Linked DNA regions of Homo sapiens. The protein of the gene in region 1 interacts with the protein of each later gene in a biochemical or structural test. Each region holds a gene or a part of one and is shown on either strand. Other genes may lie near its edges.

The links.
Region 2: the proteins of HTR2C (region 1) and APBA1 form a complex in vitro, tested with the Homo sapiens proteins (2 studies listed by BioGRID and IntAct, with this or other methods).

The regions. Positions count from the first base shown.
Region 1 is NC_000023.11:114,727,066-114,734,102, forward strand, and holds part of HTR2C (5-hydroxytryptamine receptor 2C isoform a precursor), read left to right. Parts: intron 1-3,556; exon of another isoform or gene 3,557-3,711; intron 3,712-4,228; coding exon 4,229-4,542; intron 4,543-7,037. UniProt on the Homo sapiens protein: G-protein coupled receptor for 5-hydroxytryptamine (serotonin).
Region 2 is NC_000009.12:69,445,365-69,452,401, reverse strand, and holds part of APBA1 (amyloid-beta A4 precursor protein-binding family A member 1), read left to right. Parts: intron 1-100; coding exon 101-280; intron 281-2,605; coding exon 2,606-2,818; intron 2,819-7,037. UniProt on the Homo sapiens protein: Putative function in synaptic vesicle exocytosis by binding to Munc18-1, an essential component of the synaptic vesicle exocytotic machinery. May modulate processing of the amyloid-beta precursor protein (APP) and hence formation of APP-beta.

The sequences.
Region 1 (7,037 bases):
TATTTGCCTAAATCTGCATAAATGGCTTGCTTCCCAAAAGACTAATATTATGGGTGTTTCCTATTCAAAAATAATTAATGGAAAAAAAAATTTGGACTCTAATTAAGCACTTGAGCTCATATACTTAAACAAGTAATATGGTGATAATGCCCTAAATTCAAATAATCTCAATGTTCATGGCTACTTTTTCCATGGGTAAAACTTAGAAAGGAAAAATTTCTGTCCTTTTCCTTCTTGCATGAACTGAACAGTTAAGAGAATGAAATGCCTCTGGTTTTGTGAAGAATAGTTGAGGTAGGAAAAGAAAAGGTTGGAAGTTAGGGGATAGGGCTTGGCGATGTAGCTGGATGGGAAAAACCAATGTCATCCTCAGAAGTATTGATGCAGTGACCCAGTTGCAGCCAATAATATACAACATAAAGGGTGTAGGTAAAGATACAGGAGATTCAAATAATAAGCAATTCTAAATTTGATCTAATCCAGGTATACCTTCTTTTTACATAGAAAAATGTTGGTTTCTTCCGAACCTGCTTTTTGAGGAACGAAGCATAGAAAAAAATGATCCAAAGCAATGTAAACTCTGATTGGTATAGTTGAGAAACCCCAAATCTCCTTGCTCCTAGGTAGTCTCCTTTATGATTCTTGTAAAAGAGCTCACCCAGGAAAAAGTTTACAATGTGGTGGAGATATAAAGTTCAGCAACATTGGATCCTCTGCAGTGTGCATCACTGTGGCCCATCTTGAGTGTCATTGTTGTGATGATAGTTTCAAGTATGGAAGAGTCCAAGAGAACTAGAGCAGACAACTGGGAAAGAAAAGAGTGAAGGACAGTGATAAAGAAGGGAAAAGAAGAGTTGGGTATGGGAAAATGAAAGGACAAGTGTTCCTGCTCCATGGGCCTGTGCCAACTTAGTATATAGCCATTGGCCCATATACCAAAGTGTAGGACTGCCGTAAAGGGCACCAAATTATTCTGCTATGAAATTAATTAAAGAATTCATATACAATTGTTTTAAATTCTATTGAGAGAAACAAGGAAGAATTCCTGTCTTCTAACAATGTCCTAGGTCATAGAAAAACTCAGTAGATTTTAAATATATTCAACTTTTTAAATTAAATTATCATTTTGTTTATATACTAAGAATGTAAAGTTATGTTTTCATTAAAACTTTAGTAGCAATGAGTAAATTATATGCATTTCAGAGAGAAATTATGACTTTTGTATACATATTTTATGAGATTCCTATGAGCTTAAAAACAATTAGGATAAACTTTAAGAGCAAGACCTAAATTACTCCTCTTTTGTAAAAGGACTTTATAATTTCACTGAGCATGTTAAGTATTAAAAATTAGATTTAATTATAATACAGACAATTCTTCATTACAAAACTGAAGAATAAAGGATTAAACTTTAATAAAAATCATAAAATCTTGTCTATAAGTAGTGCTCAATAAAAATTTATTAAACTGAATTTAATTGAAACCAGGAAAGTGAAGTAAATACTTTATCAAGATTTATCCTAACACCATTACCTTATTTTGTAATTCACAACAGATATGTTTACATCTGACAAGACTCCTTCCTTCAATAATTCAGTATTTGTCTTACAGATTCTTTTATTAAAAAAAAATTTTCTGACCAGTAGGGATAGGCTAGATAACTACTTGAAACAGTCCAAACTCAAAGATACTCAAATTATAAAATTCATAATTTGACATAATTTTCTTCGTATATGTTTCTGTTATATATAATTTGTCCTGTACCCCTCTACCATTTTTAGAGACATATGAATGAATTTCGATGTTTTCACAATTTACTTAGAACATTTGAGGCAGACTGCATATTCCCCTAGGACCTTATTCTATAGGTTTAAGGATAAATGTATTTGTCATTCTGCAATCAACAACTGAAGACGCAGTTTAGTATTTGAGATAAATTCTTGTGGGACTACTTGAGATGATCTTCAGCTAATTTAAAACAGAACATTGTTTTTTAAAATGCCAGCAGGACAAGTTTTTTATCAGCTAGGCCAGAAAGGACTCTGGAAAACGTGCTGGATTTAAGATTACTTTTTTGAGTCCAGTTCTTCACACATAGACGTCGTCTCAAAATAAAATCAAGACTTAAATTATCCTGGCAAATTTTGAAATACATGAGTTGGGATATAGCAAACATAAAATGCTTTTGTTTAACTACAAAGCAGACAGAAGGTACCTCCAGCATTTACTGAAGGCCTCTTATGACACAGGTATTAAAGTTTGACATATATCATTTAATTTTCACAACAACCATATGATGGAGATTGTTCTTGTACAGATGAAGTTGATGTTCTGATAGGTTAAGTGACTGGTCAAAAATTACTGAAGTCAGATAGCCAGGACATTGGCCACATGCCACATTCAATAAATACAGTGACAGAGTAATCAAAGCTGAGAGCGAATAACTTGCTTCTGTTTATTTGGTCCTTTATTTCACTAATTTTTACTCATATTAATCACAGATTAATTATGACATAGATTTTGGAATCCTGTATTATTTTTGCCTATTTTTTATGTTTTGGGAAAATAATACATTTGGAAGAATTTACTGATTACTTCTCATCATTTGATAAGAATTACGATTTCTCTGATAATGGTAGTCAGCAATGAGTCCATTAAATCACACATATATTATCCCTGCCTGGAGATACTATCTTCAGTTCAAAGAACAAGTGACTGGGATAATGACATAAAAATACATAATATGGAGAACACATAGACTCTGAATGTTATGTCATGTGTTCCATCTCCCTAATTTCAGAAAGAATCATCCTTCAACTATCTTGCATAGAAAATTATGTAGCATATATTGTGCAACCAGAGGCAATTTTCTCCTCTATAAATAATATCAAGGTTGAACAACCACTACATATAGGAAATGTATCCTCATGTTGCTGTTTAACATTAATTAAATAACTATTACTACACATGGAATAAACATAAATCACTCATTCACAGGTAATATTTCTTAGTTTTAAGCAGGAAATATTGAACATGCTTGGCTGTCTTGTCTATTTTATGAAGGAAAAAATGTGTAGCTTTATTAGACATTTTAGGAGCTTACACTTTGAGAGAATACTTATGTACATAACTCGAATAAATCTCATGTCGCCATAGGGGGATATTAATTTAGAATGTGCAAATGACAACCACATCCATCTCTGGCAATAGCCTGCCACCTGGCCTGAAATTCCTACTGGTAGAATCTACCAAAGGACCATCATGAGAAATGTACATTTCTAATGTACTTAAATGACTTAAGAGATTTAGTTCCAGTGCATGAAAAGTAACAAATCCATAGGCATTAATCATCACCACAAATCATTATCTAGCCTAGAACAAGGCCCACAAAATATAAGACAAGACAGAAATGTGGAGAGTGGCAGGTAGAAGGAAAGTTTATAGCACAAAACGTTAAGAAACAATTGAACCAGCATAATGGCACTTTGCAAATGTGAGAAGGTAGAAAAACTTCTGAAAAGAAATGAAAGGGTATTCTTGTCAAAACCCACTGTACCTCTTCCAGACGCTTTGCCGGAATTTGATCTGATGGCAACTTAATTCCTTCTTAGCCTTGGATCAATAGAATGCAACTTCCAGTTTCCTTGTTAGGGTCATGGATGCTTTAAGAAAATCCCCCTTCATTCTGTTATCAGCTGTCTCAGAACATATCTAAAGGAATCAGTATTTTAAAAATATAAAGAATAGACTATTACAGCAAATCAAGCAGTACTGTGGTTTCAGATCGCAGTAAAAGTTTAAAACATAGACTTTGAAATCAGTGGGACCTGAGTATGGACCCTGGCCCCGCCACTTACTGGCTGTTTAGGCTTGAAAAAGTTACTTACCCTTTCTGAACTTTACTCAGTCTTCTCATCTACGTGATGGATATAAATTAGAACTGACATCATGAGGTTGTTTAATAAGATCAAATGAGATTATACATATATGTTTCAGCAAACTAAGTGCCTAACTCATAATAATCACTCAATAAAAGTTGGTGATTTTTGGAGAGAAAGAAGAAATACTGAGATTAATTAAGAGAGTAGAAATAATGATGATGACAATGATGCTGATGATGATAATGATGACAATGATCCATGAAGAAGCAGTTGTTTTGCATGAGCAACGTATTGTGTATAAGTAATATAATATGTACCTGATTGTTTTTTTTTTTCTTAATTTTCAGTGTGCACCTAATTGGCCTATTGGTTTGGCAATCTGATATTTCTGTGAGCCCAGTAGCAGCTATAGTAACTGACATTTTCAATACCTCCGATGGTGGACGCTTCAAATTCCCAGACGGGGTACAAAACTGGCCAGCACTTTCAATCGTCATCATAATAATCATGACAATAGGTGGCAACATCCTTGTGATCATGGCAGTAAGCATGGAAAAGAAACTGCACAATGCCACCAATTACTTCTTAATGTCCCTAGCCATTGCTGATATGCTAGTGGGACTACTTGTCATGCCCCTGTCTCTCCTGGCAATCCTTTATGGTAAGTACAATTTTATTCACTTTTCAATCTCGTATAATGTCATAAATTTGTGTCATAGTAAACACTCATAAAGTTAATTATTTTACTTGTAACATTTGGAAAAAGAAAAAAGCAAATCGTGTGACAGAAGGAGTTGGATGTATGTATCATATTTATTAAACAAATCAGTAACAGTCTTCCAAAAGCAAAACATACATTTTATATATATTAAAATCATACATAGATGCTCTCTTGCTTAGTGTCTTTGTAAACAATGAATGAACAGTTAGTTGCCTTACAATGTACTGAATGAGACATTAACAGAAACATCTTTCAACCCCTGTGTTCTGGGCAGTACACATACCTACTACCATCTCTGATACAAAGAAGGAAAAACCGGCTCATCCTCTTTAATAAATATATTTTAAGAAATCCTTTTTTAAAGCTGCCAAACTAAGTGGTTGACACAAAACAGGCACTCAATAATAGCTATTCTTCTTGTTCATGGAGTCTATAATTTGTGTTATTACAAAGAGACAAGAGATAGCAAAATTAATTACTAAGTATATAAGTGTAAGTTCATATCATCACTTTAAAAATTCAGGCATTGAAAGTTTCAATATATTGATTTTAAAGAGGTTTTTAATTTTTCTTTTGATTTTCTTCCATCCCTTCATTCTGTTCATTTTAACCTAAGGTTTTGTTTCTAGCTAATATTTATGATGAACAATCAAATAGTTTATACAACTCTACAAAGTATCTTTACTAGGAAGTTGGAGAGCCCAGTTTGAATTTAATTGCTAATATGCTTATCTCACAAAGGAGTAAAATAGACTTCCAGTTGCCTGGAGTGTATAATGGAATTAGACTAGAAGAAATAATATTGAAAGTGTATCTAGTTGTCGAATCCTAAAAGAAAATAAATGCATCTAGAAAATAATCTCTCATGTAATGTAAAAATTAAGTAGCCTGTTCTATACCTATGGCAACAGTAGATTATCTTAATAGGCATTTTATAAAGTGTTCTCAGAATATATGCTTTTCATATTCTTCATCGAGTTTCAATGATGCATTAGCCTTAAAGCACTAGTATTTTATCTGCTCAGTGGGCATTTTACCACTCTATTGCTCCAAAATTAAGAAAAGATTACTGGAATGAAGTGAAACTATGATTTAGAAGGTATACTGTGTTCTGTGGTGTCTGTTTCGCCAGCTTCTCCCTTTAAAAAAATGTGAGTGGCCAAATAATGATATTAGCATAAATCCAAGTCTCTTAACATATCTATTCCCCTGCCCAAATAAACAAAGAACAATATAAAAAACAAATAAAACTGCACAATACCACCATTAAGTGTGGAGAACATTCAAATTTCAAATTACCTGTAAGTAGGAAAACAAATGGGAAATAACATTGAACTATCTATTAGACTTCTACCCCATGCTGTTGCGTAGAAGAAGAGTAGTCCAGGAAAGATAGCATGAAATAAACTAGAGGAAAGCTATTAGGAAGCCTAAGATTGATCTAAAACCACCACAGGTGGCCGGGCGCGGTTACTCACGCCTGTAATCCTAGCACTTTGGGAGGCCCAGGCTGGCGGATCACTTGAGGTCAGGAGCTTGAAACCAGCCTGGCTAACAGGGTGAAACCCAGTCTCTGCTGAAAATACAAAAAAATTAGCCGGGCGTGGTGGTGGGCGCCTGTAATCCCAACTACTCGGGAGGCTGAGGCAGGAGAATTGCTTGAACCTGGGAGGCAGAGGTTGCAGCAACTCGAGATCACAACACTGCACTCTAGCTTGGGCGACAGAGCAATACTCCATAAAAAAATTTAAAAAAAAAACCACCACAAGCAAGTAAGTCTACCCCAAGTACGAAAATACTGAAAAGTTTCTCTAGAAGGTCAGCTTTCAGATAAGGTACTGAAAAGTATGCATAAGACTCAAGAAAGCAGCCTTGGAAAATTAACTCTTTGGAGGTGGAAAAAGGTAAAAAAGGAAGCAAGAGGTGACTTGAAAAAAAAAAAGCACAGTGAAAGGAAAAAGAAGCAAGAGGGGGAAATTTATCATCTTACAGTACAGAAAATGTCAAAATATTAGGACCCATCACCCCTCCCTCTACTGTCTCCCACTGTCCCCCAAAGGCCCTCCAGTAAAGAAACCATACTTTGATACACAAAGAAAAGAGGATGCTCTTGAGCTTGGAATTTTGGAAGCTACCTACAAACTGTCAGTCATGTTCATAGAAATTCTGAGATGCAACCAATCTTCATCTATACCAAGCTACTATAGAAAAAAATCAGAATATGAGAATAGAAAGAAGGCATTTGATGAACATTCCCTCCAATAAAGAATGATCAAGCCGAAGAATATGCTAGCAAAACACTTCAAAAAAAATCTGCAAACAAGCATGTTAAGGTATTAAAAAATGTACTTTGAAGTAGTAATCTAATAACTAAGAATAGAAATGGTCAAAAAAATAGGACAGCATGAAGGAAAATTAACTGAATTCAGGACAAA
Region 2 (7,037 bases), on another chromosome or scaffold:
CAGACTCCAGGAGGGCCATTGTTCAGGTGGGAAGTGCGCCAGGCCGCTCACCAGGTGCACTGCCCTGCTGACCATCTTTCCTCTCTGGCTGCTGTTCCAGGCTCAGCTGATTGCACAGTCCATCGGACAGGCATTTAGCGTGGCATACCAGGAATTCCTCAGGGCCAATGGGATTAACCCCGAAGATCTCAGCCAGAAGGAGTATAGTGACCTGCTCAATACCCAGGACATGTACAACGATGACCTGATCCACTTCTCCAAGTCGGAAAACTGTAAAGATGTGGGTACTTACCTGAAGCTGTTCTCCAGGCTGGGTCAGCTGGGCAGGGGCTTGGAAAGTGGGGCACCCTGCCGCGGAAGTGAAGGGAGATCAATGGTGAGGAGTGCCGTATTGGCAGGACATCATGAAGTCGTTCACCCCCATCTCTCGCTCCCTGCTGTGGGGCCCTGTCATGAAATGCTATTGTGGACAGGTGTAAACAGAGAGGCAGCACATCCTCTGCTCCTGGTCATCCTGAGCTAAGTTTTGGGTGGGTCCCAGAGGCAGATAGGACCTGAACTCTGCTTGTACAAACACTGCAATCTAGGTAAGGGCACTGAAAAAGTTAAATGATGGTGCCAGGTACAGGCACTAATCAAAACCAACTACACTTGGACAAACAGAGAAGATCTCAAGTTTCAGACAAGAGGTGCTGTGCTTCTCTGGGGATGGCCTGTGGCTTCAAACTGAGCTATTCAGGAATGCCTGTAGGAAGATGAGGCTATCCAAGCTGGTCTGGCGATCTGGGGATTGTAGGGGCAAGCCGAGGGTGGGGTCTATGGAATGGTTGGAAGCCTGGAGATCAGAAAGCTCCACATTTGTCTAGGGAATGAGGAAATACGGTTTGGCTAGAGCAGGAGGTAGGCACAGGAAAGGAGATAGATGGGCCTGAGATCTGGGTCAGAACTGGAGGGCCTGCAAGTCCAGCTGAGGGGTTTGGACTTGATCCCATAGGTAAAAAGAACTTTTAATGAGAAAGTGATCATTTGATCCACTGGGGTCTGTCAGGTGTCTTAGGTCAGATTCCCCAGAAGCAGAGCCTGAGGCAGGGATTCTTGTCACAGAGGTTTGTTGGGAGAGTGCCTCAGAACAGAAGGGATGTGGGAAGCTTGGTGGTGGGACACCAAGTAAGGGTGTGGTCCCTTGGACATGAGCTTCCTTCTGTCCAGAGGGAAGCTCCATGGCACATATTGCAGGACAGATTTGTCTCACCTTGGAGCGAGGGAGCTGGCAAGCCTTTGTACCCCATGCCGGTTATTGGCCAAGGCTGGACAGGGGGTATATGAATTTACTAGGGCTGTTGTCACAAAGTACCATGGACTGGGTGACTTCAACAACACAAACCTATTGTCTCACAGACCTTGTGGCCAGAAGTCCAAAAGCAAGGTGTTGTTAGCATTGGTTCCTTCTGAGAGCCGTGAGAGAAGAATCTGTTCCAAGCCTTTCTCTGGCTTGTAGATGGCTGTCTTCATGCTGTGTCTTCACATCAGCCTTTCTCCATGCATGTCCCTATGTCCAAATTTCCTCTTTTTTTTTTTGATACCCATGACAGACAACCATTCCTCTTCTTAAATAAGGACATGAGTAATATTGGATTAGAGTCCATATTAATCACCTCATTTAAAATTGGTTACCTCTGCTAAGACCTTATCTCCAAATAAAGTCACAATCTAAGTCAAAGGCACTGGGGGTTGGTAATTCAACATACAAATTTTGGGGGGACACAATTCAACCTTAACAGAATGTGTCTCCCTTTCAGCTAAGGACAGTTCTCCAGGGAAGGGGCTGACTGTAAGCTTCAGCAGCTGGGGGAAGCAGACACCAACCTGTGAAGGGGACTTTGTCAAGCCCCCCAAAAATACACATACACACTCTGTTGGGTGCTTCCAAGAGGTGTGGTACCTTTTAGTGGCATATCTGCAGGCCTCCCCAGAGTGCAAGTATCCAACATCAACCCCTGTCTTCTCTGCCCTGCCAGTGAAGGTTGTGAAAAGTCTGTGTATCCAGGATATGCACTTCCTGTGTGCACACCCAGCCTTTTGGTTGTGATAACTTCAGCATCACTTTTTCTTTTTTCTCAACTTTTTCCTTGCAGAGAAGTGTTTCTGTGTGTTTATTTATTTTTAACTCAAGAAAATTAAATGTCGGAGCGAATTGGGGAAGCACTGTGGGAGGGGGAACCTGCGCATGGAATTTGAAAAGCTATTTCTAGAAACCATAACACACCACCCACCCACAGAGCCTCATCCCCTGCCACTGAGGACAGGACTGAAGAAATTAAAAAAAAAAAAAAAAAAAAAAAAAACTGGTGGTCCTCATGGTTGTGTGCTGAGGCAAGTTTGCTTATGTGAAACGAGTGAATTACAAAAGAGTGTAGACCTGTGTGAATTCATTTCTTAAAAACTCCAAATATGCGGAATGCTGAGAAGACAGGAACTCATCTGGGTTGGTGTCCCCAGGGAAGTGTCTTTCTTTAGGCAAGACAGGAATGGGGGAGAGGCTTTCATTTCTACCTACCCCAGATGGTCACTGATGGAGGTTTTCTAAATGTTTTTCTCCTTCCAGGTTTTCATAGAGAAGCAGAAAGGAGAAATCCTAGGTGTGGTGATTGTGGAGTCTGGCTGGGGATCCATCCTCCCCACCGTGATCATTGCCAACATGATGCATGGTGGCCCTGCGGAGAAATCTGGGAAGCTGAATATCGGTGACCAGATCATGTCCATTAATGGCACCAGCCTGGTGGGCCTGCCTCTGTCCACCTGCCAGAGCATTATTAAGGTACCTGAATATGGGAAAAATCAGTTGATGTGGTAAACCTCAAGTGATGTGAAGTGTGACCCCCATCCAGTCATTAATGTATATGAACATATTCAAAGTGTCAGGCACCAAGGAAGACACAAACACAAAAGGCGTGGACTTGCACTCAGGAAGCTTACCATCAAGTTACTGTTTACAGATTCTTCCCTGAAATCAATTTAGATTAGGGGAAGTGTATTTGGTTCACATGACACTACTTTCTGATAGCAGCATGTCCATCACAGCATCACTAGTCAATCACAGCATTCTCCCACTAAGCCCAGACTCAGCCTCAACAGAAATGGCCTCAGCTTGGGAATCCAGACAGTCACTTATAGTCAGCCAGATACACTTGGCATGATTTACCATCCCTGTCAAAAATGTCAGAAATGCTTCAAATCTGAGAGTGCTTTTTCCTTCCCAGTGGCCCTGACTATGATGCAGGTGAGTTTGTCCTCCCTCAGACCCCGGGTAAAGCAACTCACATGTGCTCATTGCCAGAAGGAGGAGGAAACTCTCTTCCAGTCCATGGAAGCTTTTTCATACCTGAGCATACTTCCTGCTCAACCTGAACTGATGCTTATAAAGCTAAGAAGAGCTACTTAAAGGAAAATTAAATGTGAATACTTGAGAAGAAATGAGATTTTCTTTAGACATGAAGCATTCATGTGGAGTTTTTTGAGCACATTGGGACTTGCTGAATGCATGGCCAGTGTGACCAGGATGTTCCTCCTCCATGATGGCATCTGTAGACCCCAGTAGCTCTGCACCAAGTGCTGCGGTACTGTAGCTAGACTGAGATTCCACAGCGTTTTTTGGGGTCCTGTAGGGGTTTCCTGAAAGACTTAGCTGGAACATAGCTGTGTGCGTATGTGCATGTGTGAGAGAGAGGGAGAAGGAAGGGGATTAATTCGTGCAAATAGTCATTGTGAGCAAAAGAAAAATCACAAAGCCAGCCTCCTCAGCTAAGGGGGTGGGGGTGGGAGGTGAAGGTGAGTGTATAGGACACATGGATGGTGACTTTTTGTTTTTAATGAAATGGAGTAAATTCTAATTTCACATAAGATAATCACATCTGGAAAGAAATAGTCCTCTTTGGCCTCCTTTAATTTCTTTTTCTTATATCTTATACTTAAATAAATTCTACCTCTTGCTTAATACACGTTAAAGGTAAGATTAGAGAATCAACTTTGAACATGGATATTCATTCAGAAAGGTTTAATTGGGCCTCTGTGAGGCACTGAGCTGCGCTCTGAGGAAGCTGGCTTGCCAGTGTGCATGTGCAGGATAATTAGAGACGTGCAAGGGCTCTGCGGCCAACATAAAGGTGAGAGGCTACAAGTGATTAGATGGACAATTTTATGTGATTTTAAAGTTGACCTTGAAGGAATAAAACCTAGGTAGGTAGCAGAAAGGGAAGTGGCGTTTGGAAGTTTCTGCTTGAATTGATGGACAGGGGCCGGTGTTGAGTCAGGGAGAGATGGGGTCTGAGCCTGGCCCGGAACGGCTGGTCTGGTGTTGCTGTGATTGCATGGAGAGGCAAGCGGGGGGGTGGGGCTAGGGAGGCAGGACCACAAGTCGCTCCTGCCAGTGAGCAAGTTGCTTATTAAACACCTTGGGTGCATGCATGAGAACTGCTGAGGGGCTGTGGGACCCAGGGGCCCCGTGGACACAGTCCCTGCCCCCCAGGGAGCTTGGTCGGTTTGAGGAGAAGTGAAAGGACTTATGGCTCACAGTGCTCAGTGCTGTGTGTCTGTGCTCTGGATGCTCTGAGAATATGTGTGGACTGACTTGCTGAGCCTTCGGGGCAGCATTCTGTGGGCAGGTACTATTTTGTACCCATTGTACAAGCTAGGAAGCTGAGGCACAGCAAGATGATGTAATCGTCTGTGGTCATACAGCCTCCAATACAGAGTCATCCCAGGGAGGGTGTCAGGTGAAATGCTAGGCCCAAGGCCAGACCATGGGGCAGTACTTCTCAGCCAGGGGTGATCTTCATCCCCCAAAATGTATGGAGACTGTTTGGGTTGTCACGGAGGAGAAGGTGCTGCCAGCATCCAGTGGGTAGAGGCCAGGGATACTGTCAAACATCCTACAATGCACAGGACAGCCCCACAGCACAGAGTTATCCAGCCCCAAATGTAGGTAGTGCTGAGGTTGAGAAACTGCCTGAGCGGCATAGGAGTTCAGATGCAAGAGAGAGAAATCGATGAGAGAGGGAAGCTGGTTAGGGATGGTTTGTGGGGAGTTGGTCTGAGTCTAGAAGGGTTGGGGAGGAGGAGCGGGGATAGGGGGTTAAGTAAAGTATTGAGTAATATTTGTGTTCCCTCCAAATACATATTGAAACCCTAATCCCAATGTGATGTTATTTGGAGGTGGAGCCTTTAGGAAGTGATTAGCAGGAGGGTGGAGCCCTCATGGTTGGGATTAGTGCCCTTAAAAAAGGGACCCCAGCAAGCTCTCTTTTGGTATGTGAAGATGCTAGAAGTTGGCCATCTGCAACTCAGAAGGGGCTCTTGCCAGAACCTGACAGTGCTGGTACGCTGAGCTCAGACTTCCAGCCTCCAGAACTGTGAGGGATAAATGCCTGTTGTTTATAAGCCACCTAGTCTGTGGTACTTTGTCATGGCAGACTAAGAACAGACTCAGACAAGGGGAGGACTTAAGTAAAGGTGGGGATGGGGCCTGGGCAGGAACAAGCCGCGCTTCCTGAGGCCCTTAAGACTCCAGCTCATGGCCTGGAGTCACCTCCTTTCCTCCTCAGGACAGCCCACAAGGGGGACAGCAGATGCTAGGTGCACAGATGGGCCATCAGAGACTCTAAAGGCACAGGAGACTTGCCCAGGGCCCCCAGCTGGCCAGTGAGTCCCCACCCTCCTGCGAATCGCTCCTTCCTTATCTGCGTGGGGACCAGAGGAGGGAAGCAGTGAGGCTATGAGGGCAGCCTGACTCCCTCTGCAGCTGCCACAGCATCAAGGTGGAAGCAAAGCTTGCTGGAGTACAGACGGAGCTCTGTCTGCACAGTTTCCTAAGGGGAAATGGATTGTTTGAGGAGCTGAACTTTGATGTCTATAAATGTAATCTCTATAGAACCAGAAAATTAAAAGGCCGAGTGGTGATAAAAGAGATGTAACTGATGAAGATGAAGAGTAAGAAAAGAAAAGCAGTGCTTTCGTGGCCACCCATAGTGAAGAAGTACTTAGCAGGGCAGACCCCGATTAGAGCACAGCTGAACTTCCTCCCTGCCACAGTGCGCCGCTTGTTGAATGGGGAAATGTGATGGTCCGTCCGTGGACCACCCTGGCTGGTGGGAGGTGTAACCACTGATAACAGCCAGAATCACCAGTACCAAATACAGACTGACATCAGTGGGTCGTATCACCTTTTTAAAATTCTCTAGAAAACACACCCCTTTTTGCCTGCACCTGGACAGATGTGCACACTGCCCTACCCCCACCCCTCGGGCCACTGCAGAGCAGCATCTGGACCACTTCAAGGCTGTGTTCAAATTTGTTTCAGTGTATGTCCATGCTCTTTGCAGTGACTTTGACAAGCAACTCTCATCCTGATGAATCAGTGCTTCTCAAACTGATTGGAATCACCTGGGGATCTTGTTAGAATGCAGGTCTGATTCAGCAGGTATAGGGTGGAATTCTGCATTTTTGGCAGGCTTTGCGGCGGGGATGGCATCACCAGTCTGCAGGCTACACTTTCAGGAACAGGGATCCAAAGTGTGCATTCTGCATCTGGCCACTTCAATACTGGTTGACTATTGTCCCCCCAGGTTACAGGAAATCAATTTCTAGAGTAGAATTATAGGTATTGACTTGCCTTACTCTTCCTACCTTATTTTTTGGGTCATAATTAATTCCCAAGGCATAATTATTGGTGGGTGGAACATTTTACAGGCTGCCTCTTTCTGTGCCTTTGCCTCTGTGGTCCTGCCCTCTGGGTTTTTGCTCTGTTTTAGAATAGCGCACAGCTTCCCTTGCTTCCCCAGGAGCATCATGGTTCTGCTCTCCCGTTGCTATAGAGACCATTCTGGCTTCTCTTTTCTCTCTTCGCCCCTCTTCTCTGGGCTTCCCCTCCCACCAGATTTCTTAATTTGCTGTACCGTTCCACTGTTGTCATGGGGACCAAATGACCCTTTATTTAATTGGCACCTCCAATAAAATGGCAGCTCAGAAATCCAAGTTAATGG